Homo sapiens: one gene and its partners. The protein of the gene in region 3 purifies or fractionates together with the protein of the main gene of each other region. This does not show direct contact. Each region holds a gene or a part of one and is shown on either strand. Other genes may lie near its edges. The genes, in order: RPF2, PAK1IP1 and RRP15.

Evidence for each region.
Region 1: the proteins of RRP15 (region 3) and RPF2 fractionate together in Homo sapiens (co-fractionation; one large-scale study listed by BioGRID). This does not show direct contact.
Region 2: the proteins of RRP15 (region 3) and PAK1IP1 fractionate together in Homo sapiens (co-fractionation; one large-scale study listed by BioGRID). This does not show direct contact.

Annotation. Positions count from the first base shown.
Region 1 is NC_000006.12:111,012,956-111,016,609, forward strand, and holds part of RPF2 (ribosome production factor 2 homolog), read left to right. Parts: exon of another isoform or gene 1-633; intron 634-2,798; coding exon 2,799-2,901; intron 2,902-3,654. UniProt on the Homo sapiens protein: Involved in ribosomal large subunit assembly. May regulate the localization of the 5S RNP/5S ribonucleoprotein particle to the nucleolus.
Region 2 is NC_000006.12:10,701,360-10,705,013, forward strand, and holds part of PAK1IP1 (p21-activated protein kinase-interacting protein 1), read left to right. Parts: intron 1-1,009; coding exon 1,010-1,130; intron 1,131-1,205; coding exon 1,206-1,280; intron 1,281-2,045; coding exon 2,046-2,098; intron 2,099-3,147; coding exon 3,148-3,293; intron 3,294-3,387; coding exon 3,388-3,485; intron 3,486-3,654. UniProt on the Homo sapiens protein: Negatively regulates the PAK1 kinase. PAK1 is a member of the PAK kinase family, which has been shown to play a positive role in the regulation of signaling pathways involving MAPK8 and RELA.
Region 3 is NC_000001.11:218,288,199-218,291,852, forward strand, and holds part of RRP15 (RRP15-like protein), read left to right. Parts: intron 1-3,654.

The DNA of each region.
Region 1 (3,654 bases), on a different chromosome or scaffold from region 3:
CACCGTGCCCAGCCATGCTTTTATTTATACAGTATTATTATACTTTAGGTTATCAAGTTCATAAAGTTATTTATCATACTTCTTGGTCAAAATCCTAACAGTGTATATACCACTTGCATGACGTCTTTCCCAACTAGAAATGATCTTTCTCTCCTCAGAACTTCCAGAATGGTTTATACTGTTCTCCTTTTAATGTGCTACTTTAAATTGCAGTTGTTTGTATGTATTCATATCTACCTAGAATGCAGGGCCCCTGATAGAAAAATGCTATATGTCATTTATCACTTTGCATAATAGGTGCTCTGGTACAATTTATTAAGTGAATGGATTCTTGCCAATGGTATTCATGTGTAAACAATACTCTGTTGTGTTCTAGCCAGAAAATATCATGCTGTTAGACATATTTGCTTTCCGGTTACTAAGTACTACCATTTATGCCCTCCCGTTTTCATTCATTACTTGTTTGTGTTACCTTGATGATTTGCAAACTTTAGTGAAATTTCAGTTTGGCAGTTAAGAGAAAATGTTGTAATAAAAGGATGGCTGGTTAGAACTATTGGATACAGACTGAAAATCCTTTTATATTCATAGTCTTAGAAATTTTGACTTAATAAAGAGTACTTTTCCATGTGCTTATTGTGTTCCTAAAGTTTTCTCCCAAAGCACAGATGTCCTGAAAATTTTGCATTATGAAAGTTGTTTCAGAGCAGACTGGAATGTACATATTTCGTTTCCCAGAAGTACTCTGACTTCAGTAATGCCACACCAATGAGTGAGCTTTATTAACTTGGCCACTGAAGGAGAGTCAGGCTTTGGCAAAATCATGGGAAAGCTCTTTATTATGATATTTAGATTAAAATATCTTGAAAAGTACAAACTTGTTTTATAAAAATGTCCCAGGCCAGGCGTGGTGGCTCAAACCTGTAATCCCAGCACTTTGAGAGACCAAGGCAGGAGGAGTGCTTGAGTCTAGGAGTTCGAAACCAGCCTGGGCAACATAGTGAGACCCCATCCGTACATAATATATGTATAAATATATGTAGTATATGTACTTTTTTTAAATTAAAAATGTTCATTAGTTTTTTTTTTTTCTTGTTTGGGGGAGTAGAGGAGGGTGGTGTATAAATGTGCCTGCCCACTTGTGTTTGTTTTATACAAGTTAATGCTGTGTTTTTTGTTTTTTGGGTTTTTTTTTTTTTGAGACTGAGTCTCACACTGTCGCCCAGGCTGGAGTACAGTGGCGCAATCTCGGCTCACTGCAATCTCCGCCTCCCAGGTTCAAGTGATTCTCCTGCCTCAGCCTCCCAAGTAGCTAGGGAGGCACTTGCCACCACACCTGGCTAATTTTTTGTGGTTTTAGTAGAGATAGGGTTTCACTGTGTTAGCCCCTATGGTCTTGATCTCCTGACCTCATGATCTGCTCGCCTCGGCCTCCCAAAGTGCTGGGATTACAGGCATGAGCCACTGCACCTGGCCTGTGATTTTCTTTTGGTTAAGCACAAGAAAGGAAAAGCAGACAACAAAAGATGCGTTCATCTGTGCACATGGAGATAATCTGCATCTTATGGGCTAATGGGAAGCAGGAAGGAAAATGCTAGGTGGCTACAGAATGGGACTAGAACAGAATTTCCCACTTACTACATCACCTGCCTTGGGCAGCTCTTCCTAAGCAAACTTGGATAAACTTTTATATAGACCTTTTATCTTAGCCAAATGTTATTCATGAATTTCCATTTAGCCTCCTTGAGGTTCGATTTTCTCAGCTGTAAAATTAAGATATCACACTTGTTTTCCAAACTTCTTTCATAGCCAAGTCTGTGTAGTATCCTTAGCGTGCAGTTCACTGGAGATTTTCTTTTAATTGACTCCTCTTTTTAAGTTATTGTTTGAGACAGGGTTTTGCTCTGTCGTTCTCACTGAGTCCAGTGGTGGGATCAGCAATCCTCCCACCTTAGCCTCTCCAGTAGCTGGGACTACAACCTGGCTAATTTTTTATACTTTTAGTGGAGATGAGGTTTCACCATGTTGCCCAGCCTGGCCTCAAACTCCTGAGCTTAAGCAATTCGCCCGCCTCAGTCTCCCAAAGTGCTGGGATGACAGGCATGAGCCACTGTGCATGGCTGACTACTCTTTTTAAAAGGAAATTTTATGTCCCTATTGTAAATGGAGAATGGTACAGGATAAAATAAATACGTAGTAAATTATATCTGGCTTTGTATCATTAAAATGCTCTCATGTGCCACCGGTGGTATGATTACCACTTTGTGAGAAAAAAGACTATCACTGATATGCAAGGTTCTTTTCTGGCATTAACAGTTTATAAAGTTTCTTATCCTTTGTTCATATAATCAAGATTTCTTATTAGAGTTTTTTTCTTGTTGGCCTCCCTCATAGAAAAAAAAATTAAGGCTAATTTGATTTTAATAGTCAATTTGAACAGCCATTTTTATAGAAATTTGCTATCTTCATCTACCAGTAGATTAAAATTTTATGCTTTGATTTACATTTTTTAAAAGTTAGTATTTTTAATGGATATGATTTTTTGATGCTGAGCTGACTCAGAGGAAGAACTTCAAAACAGAAACATTAAATGTCTCAGTGAACTGAACACCAAAATACCAAAATAAAGTCATGAGATTAAATGCTTAAGGGGTGGGACCTTCAGACATTTTTCAGGAATCATTTTTTGTGCTTTTTTAGATAAGTATTGGAGCAAAACTGTTTAGAGTGCAGTTCTTTGTAACTGAATTTTGCAAGTATTTGTTTTGTTTTGTTAATAATTTAATATGTGCTTTTAGATTTCTTCAGAGGCCCCACAGTATCAAATATCCGCCTGGCTGGATTAGAGTATGTTCTGCACTTCACTGCACTGAATGGGAAGATTTACTTTCGAAGCTATAAGTAAGTGCATTTCTTCACATATTTTCTTAATCCTCAGGGTTAGTGTTTAAAACTGTGTGACTGTTTTTTAGAGCCCAAACTTAGAATTGGTATCTGGCCAAAAGGTTTCTTGGAGAGTTGGCAGGATAGCAGTGACAGCAGCTCTGTGCTGATCCTCAGTCCTTTGCCTCTGAAACCCTACTTTTCCAGTGCCCCAGAGCATCTGATGCTGCACTGTCGCTGAGCCAGGTGCACCAACCCTTCCTAGCTTTATGCAGCATCTCTTTATTGTTCTTGGTTGGATTTACAGCACTAAGCCACAAATCCTTGGCTAGGCAAAGCAAATCTCAAAACCCTAAGTCTTAACAATTGAGTCTAAAAGGAATAAGAAGATTCAGTGGCTAGATTCATTTCACTCTGTCTCTCTAGCCTAGGCCTTCTACCCCTACCACAATATAAATATAAATCTTAAGCAGGCCGAGCATGGTGGCTCACACCTGTAATCTCAGCACTTTGGGAGGCTGAGGCAGGCAGATCACTTGAGGCCAGGAGTTCAAAACCAGCCTGGCCAACATGACGAAACCCCATCTCTACTAAAAAAAACCAGAAAAATTAGCCCAGCGTGGTGGCACATGCCTGTAGTTCCAGCTGCTCAGAAGGCTGAGGCACAAAAATCGCTTGAACCTGGGAGGTGGAAGTTGCAGTGAGCCATGATTGTGCCACTGCACTCCAGCCTGGGCAACAGAGTGAGGGCGCTGAAAAAACAAAAAACAA
Region 2 (3,654 bases), on a different chromosome or scaffold from region 3:
AGCCACCTCGCCTAGCCAGTGTTTAATTTTCTCTTCCTGCATTAGTTTGCTGGGGATAATGGCTTCCAACTCCATCCACATCCCTGCAAAGGACATGATCTCATTCCTTTTTATGGGTGCATAAATCCTATTTTTCTAAGAGTTGCTAATAGATAAGCTTTTTTCTAGGGAAGCAAATGTGGGAAACCAAACTTTCCAAAGTGAGAAATAGGATAATAGGGAGAGGAAAATATGAACAAATGAATGAGAAGTGTGTGGAAATGGATCAAAACAGATCTGAGTGATAAGGATTGGATTGTGGCTGATTGGGTAGCTAATTCACTGTTTAGAAAGTGGAAGTCATGTGGCAGTACACCTGGTTTGTTCCCCAGATTAGCTTGTTAGCTGATTAGTTTTGTTTACTTCTGCTCAAACTATCCTAGCCAGCCACCTCCTAAATTTATAATTTGAAGACATAAAGCAAGGACGTGAACTGATTTGTTCAAATCTGTATCTAAACTGGAGATACTCTGCTGAAAATATTTGCATAGATTTGAACAACTGTACTTACATGAAAAAATTTAAGGTATGTTTTAGTAATATTAAGACATTGAGGCCAGGCACAGTGGCTCACACCTGTAATCCCAGCACTTTGGGAGGCTGAGGTGGGCAGATCACTTGGGCCCAGGAGTTCAAGACCAGCCTGGGCAACATGGCATGGTGAAACACTGTATCTACAAAAAATACAAAAATTAGCTAGGTATATTGATGTGCACCTGTAGTCCCAGTTACTCAGGAGGCTGAGGTGGGAAGATTGCTTGAACCCAGGAGGCAGAGGTTGCAGTGGGATAAGATCATGCCATAGCACTTCAGCCTGGGTAACAAGAGTGAAACCCTGCCTCAAAAAAAAAAAAAAGAAAAAGAAAAAAAGGTATTGAGTGTTTTACTTAGCATAGCATAGCCTTCAAATCAGAAATGGAGTTTGCATTTAAAATGAATATTATTTTTGCCTATTTTGGTTTTTCCATAGGTACAATAACTTGCCTGAAATTCTATGGCAACAGGCATTTAATCAGTGGAGCGGAAGATGGACTCATCTGTATCTGGGATGCAAAGAAATGGGAATGCCTGAAGTCAATTAAAGCTCACAAGTGAGTCGGGCTCTTTCCCTTTGGCATTCTCGATGTGCCAGTCAAGTTGGGGACTAACTTTTGGTTTCATTATAGAGGACAGGTGACCTTCCTTTCTATTCACCCATCTGGCAAGTTGGCCCTGTCGGTTGGTACAGATAAAACTTTAAGGTAAGTCATTAATGCTCAAGAGCATTTATCTAAGGTGTGTGTTTTACTACAGCTCTCCACCATCTAAAAATACTGTTATACAAGGGAAAGGTCAAAAGCTGGTGAACCTTTTCATAGTGGTTCATAGTGGTAGAATGAAAATGACAAGCTCTGTTTTCTTTCTTTTTTTTTTGAGACAGAGTCTCGCTCTGTCTCCCTGCTCTGTCGCCCAGGCTGGAGTGCGGCGGCGTGATCTTGGCTCACTGCAAGCTCCGCCTCCCAGGTTCATGCCATTCTCCTGCCTCAGCCTCCCAAGTAGCTGGAACTACAGGCGCCCACCACCACGCCCGGCTATTTTTTGTATTTTTAGTAGAGACGGGGTTTCACCGTGTTAGCCAGGATGGTCTTGATCTCCTGACCTCATGATCCGCCCGCCTCAGCCTCCGAAAGTGCTGGGATTACAGGCGTGAGCCACCACGCCCAGCCAACAAGCTCCGTTTTCAAACATGCAATTATGCTGCAGTCATCATAGCTGTGAATTGAAGATTTTAGAAAGGGAAACCTTTTGAAAATACAATGGATACGAGATGTTAAAGGGATATGGGAATGAAGCAAGTCTTAATCCTGCCTCATAATATTTCAAAATATTGCTGTAAGGAAGATAGCAGGTCTTCTAAATAGCCAATATTTAGTAAAATGTCACTTAAGTCTTCATTATGCTTGTTCTTTTACGCTTAGTAAAAGTTAGTTGGTGATCACACCGTAAGTGAGCTTCCTGTTTTGCAGAACGTGGAATCTTGTAGAAGGAAGATCAGCATTCATAAAAAATATAAAACAAAGTGAGTATTTTTGTTTGAAATGCAGGTTGAGCATTCCTAATCTGGAAATCTGAAATGCTCCAAAATCTGAAACTTTTTGAGCACTGATGTGGTGCCTCAAGTAGAAAATTCAACACCTTACCTCATGATGGGTCACAGTCAGAACCTTGTTTCATACACAAAATTATTTAAAATATTGTGTAAAATTACCTTCCGGCTAGGTGTATATGAAGCATAGATGAATTTCATGTTTAGACTTGAAACATGAGTTGCATGGGTTTTATCCTCGAGATATTTCATTGTATATATGCAGATATTCCAAAATCCAAAATCGTTCTGGTCCCAAGCATTTTGGATAAGGGATACTCAACCTGTATATTTTACAGTGACTTAATGGAATATGAATATAGATATACATTTTTACATGTGTGTATGTTACACATTTATTTCCCTGCATGGTGGTGGTTACCTCTGAGCAAATGCCTTGGGTTACTTTCTTTTCCCATTTTAGACTAGATTCTTTTTGTGGCTCTGCCACCTGCCTTTGATTTTTATTTTGTTTCATTTTATTTTATTTTATATTTTTTATTTTATTTTATTTTTTGAGATGGAGTCTCGCTCTATCACCCAGGCTGGAGTGCAGTGGCGCTATCTCAGCTCCCTACAACCTCTGCCTTCTGAGTTCGTTATTCTCCTGCCTCACCCTCCCAAGCAGCTGGGATTACAGGCGCGTGCCACCATGCTTGGCTAATTTTTTGTATTTTTTGGTAGAGAGATGGGGTTTCACCATGTTTGCCAGGCTGGTCTCAAACTCCTGGCCTTAAGTGATCCACCCACCTTGGCCTCCCAAAGTGCTGGCATTACAGGTGTGAGCCACTGCACCTGGCCCACCTTTGACTTTTTGAACCTAGATTATTTTCTAAAAAACTTGACTTGTAAAATGTGTTACGAAGATGAAATAGGATAATGAATTTGAAAATGCACAGTATAAATATTTGCTATTTTTATTACTATGATCATTTTATGTTTTATTTACAAAATAAATAAACTTCGTTTTTTTCCACTTACAGATGCTCACATAGTAGAATGGTCCCCAAGAGGAGAGCAGTATGTAGTTATCATACAGAATAAAATAGACATCTATCAGCTTGACACTGCATCCATTAGTGGCACCATCACAAATGAAAAGAGAATTTCCTCTGTTAAATTTCTTTCAGTAAGTAATCAGAAATCATTGACCAAAGTTTGTGGTGATGGTTGGAACTGTTGATGACATTCTGGATGTTATTACTCTTTTTCCTCTCTCCTAGGAGTCTGTCCTTGCAGTGGCTGGAGATGAAGAAGTTATAAGGTTTTTTGACTGTGATTCACTAGTGTGCCTCTGCGAATTTAAAGCTCATGAAAACAGGTATTTTTACCAATCTTTGGTGTATATGTCTAGTCTTAATAAAAGGTATATATGCAGTAGTTTCATAAGCCAGGTTATATGTTTTTATTAACAACTGCAGAAATAATCAGACATATCTACATGTACAGTATATGGTATCTGTAGTCTAATAAGGTGGTGGAAGATGTTA
Region 3 (3,654 bases):
GGACAGTTTGTAGGCAATTGCAAAATTCTATGTTAGGATCTGCACTAGGACACAGCAGTGAAGACAGAGAAGGGCCCCACTTGAAATATTTTTCAAAAAGAAAGTATTCAATTTTGCAAACAGGCAACTTTCATGTGAGCTTATAGCACCATAGGTTTTGGGCATACTACACTGTTAGAGGAATTGGATAATAACAATAGTTATACTTTTGGAACTTTCCTATGTGCCTGGTTCTGTTCTGAGTTCCTTCTATATATCAGCTCAGAGAATTCTGACAACTCTATGAGATAGATGCTGCTATTATCCTCCTGTTACATTTAAAAAACTGAGGCACAGAGGCTTATAACTTGCCCACTTCTGTACATAAGCAGATAAGCAAGTTGATAAATGATACAACAATTATTGAAGTTTGATTGTAGAGCTTATGCTCTTGACCACTACCTTAATATGTTTGAGGAATCAGGAGGACATAGATAATTTTAAAAAGTATCTGGAAAGTGAAAGCGTTGGGCCTTTGAATCTAAGGAAAGAAAGGATTGGGGACAAGGAGACTTTGGTATGGAGACAAACTTTTCTCCCTCCCACTCAAGAAGATTTCATCACCAAGGGACATTTTTGTGTTCAGATTTCTATAGCACTTCCAATGTTTATAACCAGAGTATTCTTTCCTTCCTTCCTTTCTCCTAAAATCCATATGTTATTTCTGGAAGCAAATTCCCCTGTTCACTCAATTGTATAAGAGGCACCTGTGATGGTACTACCTTTCAGAGTGACTTTGTGCTAGTTATTATTATCTACCCCAATTTCCTCATCTACAAAATGAGGATAATAATAATGTCTACTTTAGGATTGTTGTAACAATTAAATGAGTTTATATATGGTAAGCATTTAATATTTGGCACATGGTACCCACTCATAAATATTAGTGATGACGATGATGTCTCTTCTGACCTAAAAAAACTGCTAGTCCCATCTCTTTTTGCCAAATAAGTTTTCCCACCTTTGGTAATGTGGTATTTGTAAGCTGGAGCTCTCCCCAGAAAAGAGGTTTGAATTATTCTAGTAACCCTGTAAGGTAGCTGATGGCATTTCTATTTTACAGATAAGAAAAGAAGCTTGGAAATAGTGCTTCCAGTATATCATATTGCTTCCTAGTAGAAAACTGTTACCTCCATAGGTGCAAGATGTTATCTGTTATTCCACTCGTTTTATTCCATAATCTAACCATTAGATCATATATTTTTGGTAAAATTCAAGATCAGTGATAACGATGTTGATAACAATTGATTGTGTCTGCTTGGTTATGCCATAGACACATTTTCTTTGCCAAAGCTGCTTCTGTCTCTAAGAAAGACACTGCCATCTACTCCCATCCAAGCTGGAAACACAAGTGTCATCCTTTAGTCTTCCTGTTGCTTCCATATCTATTTGGTTTAATTAATCCATTTATTCTGTTGCCACTACTTTAGTTCTTGCCCGCATCTCTCTCTCTCTCTTTTTTGAGATGGAGTTTTGCTCTTGTTGCCCAGGCTGGAGTGCAATGGTATGATCTCAGGTCACCCCAACCTCCACCTCCAGGGTTCAAGTGATTCTTCTGCCTCAGCCTCCCAAGTAGCTGGGATTACAGGCATGCACCACCACACCCAGCTAATTTTGTATTTTTAGTAGAGACAGAGTTTCTCCATGTTGGTCAGGCTGGTCTTGAACTCCTGACCTCAGGTGATCCACCCACCTTGGCCTCCCAAAGTGCTGGGATTACAGGCATGAGCCACTGTGCCTGGCCTTGCCTGCATCTCTTTTGTTTACATTAGTTCATAGGGTACCTATCTGTTGGGCCTGTCATTGCAGCCTTACTCCCTTCAGTCTTCTAGGCAATTGCTTCTTTAACCATCAATGTTGAAGGACCATTCTGAGTTTTGTTTTTTAATCTCCAATCTGTAATAGACAGGTGTTTTTTTTAAAAAAAATCAATGAAAAAGAGTAACTGGAAACATGACCACATTGTTGGACATCATGGTAATATCAAATTACTATAAATGTTTATAAATACTTACTCTCAATTTGTGAATTCGCAGTTGATTCTAGTTACAGTAATGTTCAGTAAAGTTGCAGGAAACCCTGAATCCCTGAATTAGTGAACCATTGCTTCTAGAGGAAATACAGTTTTAGGCTCCTGTGAGCCTCTGGTCAGAACATTTTTGTCATTTTATCAATACATAACCTTGTCTTATGTGGATTTTTTTTGGGTTTTTTGTTTGTTTGTTTGTTTTTGTTTTTGTTTTCTGAAACAAGATCTGGCTCTATTACCCAGGCTGCTGGAGTGCAGTGGTGCAATCTTGGCTCACTGCAACCTCTGCCTGTTAGGCTCAAGCCATCCTCCCACCTCAGCCTCTGGATTAGCTGGGACTATAGGCGTACACTACCCACACCTGGCTGATTTTTGTATTTTTGGAAGAGATGAGGTTTTGCCATGTTGCTCAGACTGGTCTTGAACTCATGAGCTCAATTGATCTGCCTGCCTTGGCCTCCCAAAGTGCTGGGATTACAGGCATGAGCCACTGCTCCCAGCCTTATGTGTGTTTTTGTTTGAAGACAAAGAAGAGCTCCACTTGAAATGGTTTTCAGAAAGAAAGTGTTTGATTTTCCTTGGCCACATGCGGGGGGCATACATCTGTAATCTCAGCACTTTGGAGGCTGAGGTGGGAGGATTGCTTGAACCCAGGAGTCTGAGGCCAGCCTAGGCAACATAGTGAGACCCCGTCACTACAAAAAAAATGGAAAAAACTAGCTGGATATGGTGGTGTGTGCCGTGTGCCTGTAATCCCAGCTACTTGGGAGGCTAAGGTGGGAGGGTTGCTTGAGCCTGGGAGTTCGAGACTGCAGTGAGCTGTGACTGTGCCACTGTACTCCAGCCTGGGTGACACAGCATGACCCTGTCCCAAAAAATAAAAAATTTAGACTGGACATGGTGGCTCACACCTGTAATCCCAGCACTTTGGGAGGCCAAGGTGGGCAGATCACTTAAAGTCAGGAATTTGAGACCAGCCTGGCTAACATGGCAAAACCCATCTCTACCAAAAAAAAAATATACAAAAAATTAGCCCAACATGGTGGTGTATGCCTGTAGTGCCAGCTACTTGTGAGGCTAAGGCATAAGAATCACTTGAACCTGGGAGGCAGAGGTTGCAGTGGGCCAAGATTGTGCCACTGCACTCCAGCCTGGCTGACAGAGTGAGACTCTGTCTCAAAAATGAATAAATAAATTTTAAAAACAAAACTCTGAGATTAAAGAAAAAGGAAAAAAAAAAGAAAGAAATCATTGAATTTTCCTTTTTTTTTTTTTTTTTTTTTTGAGATGGAGTCTCGTTCTGTTGCCAGGCTGGAGTACAGTGGTGCTATCTCGGTTCACCACAACCTCCGCCTCCCAGGTTCAAGCAATTCTTCTGCCTCAGCCTTCCGAGTAGCTGGTACTACAGGCACGTGCCACCACGCCCGGCTAATTTTTGTATTTTTAGTAGAGACGGGGTTTCAACATGTTGGCCAGGATAGTCTGGATCTCTTGACCTCATGATACACCCACCTTGGTCTCCCAAAGTGTTGGGATTACAGGCGTGAGCCACCGCGGCTGGCCCCCCACTCCCCACCCCCTTTTTT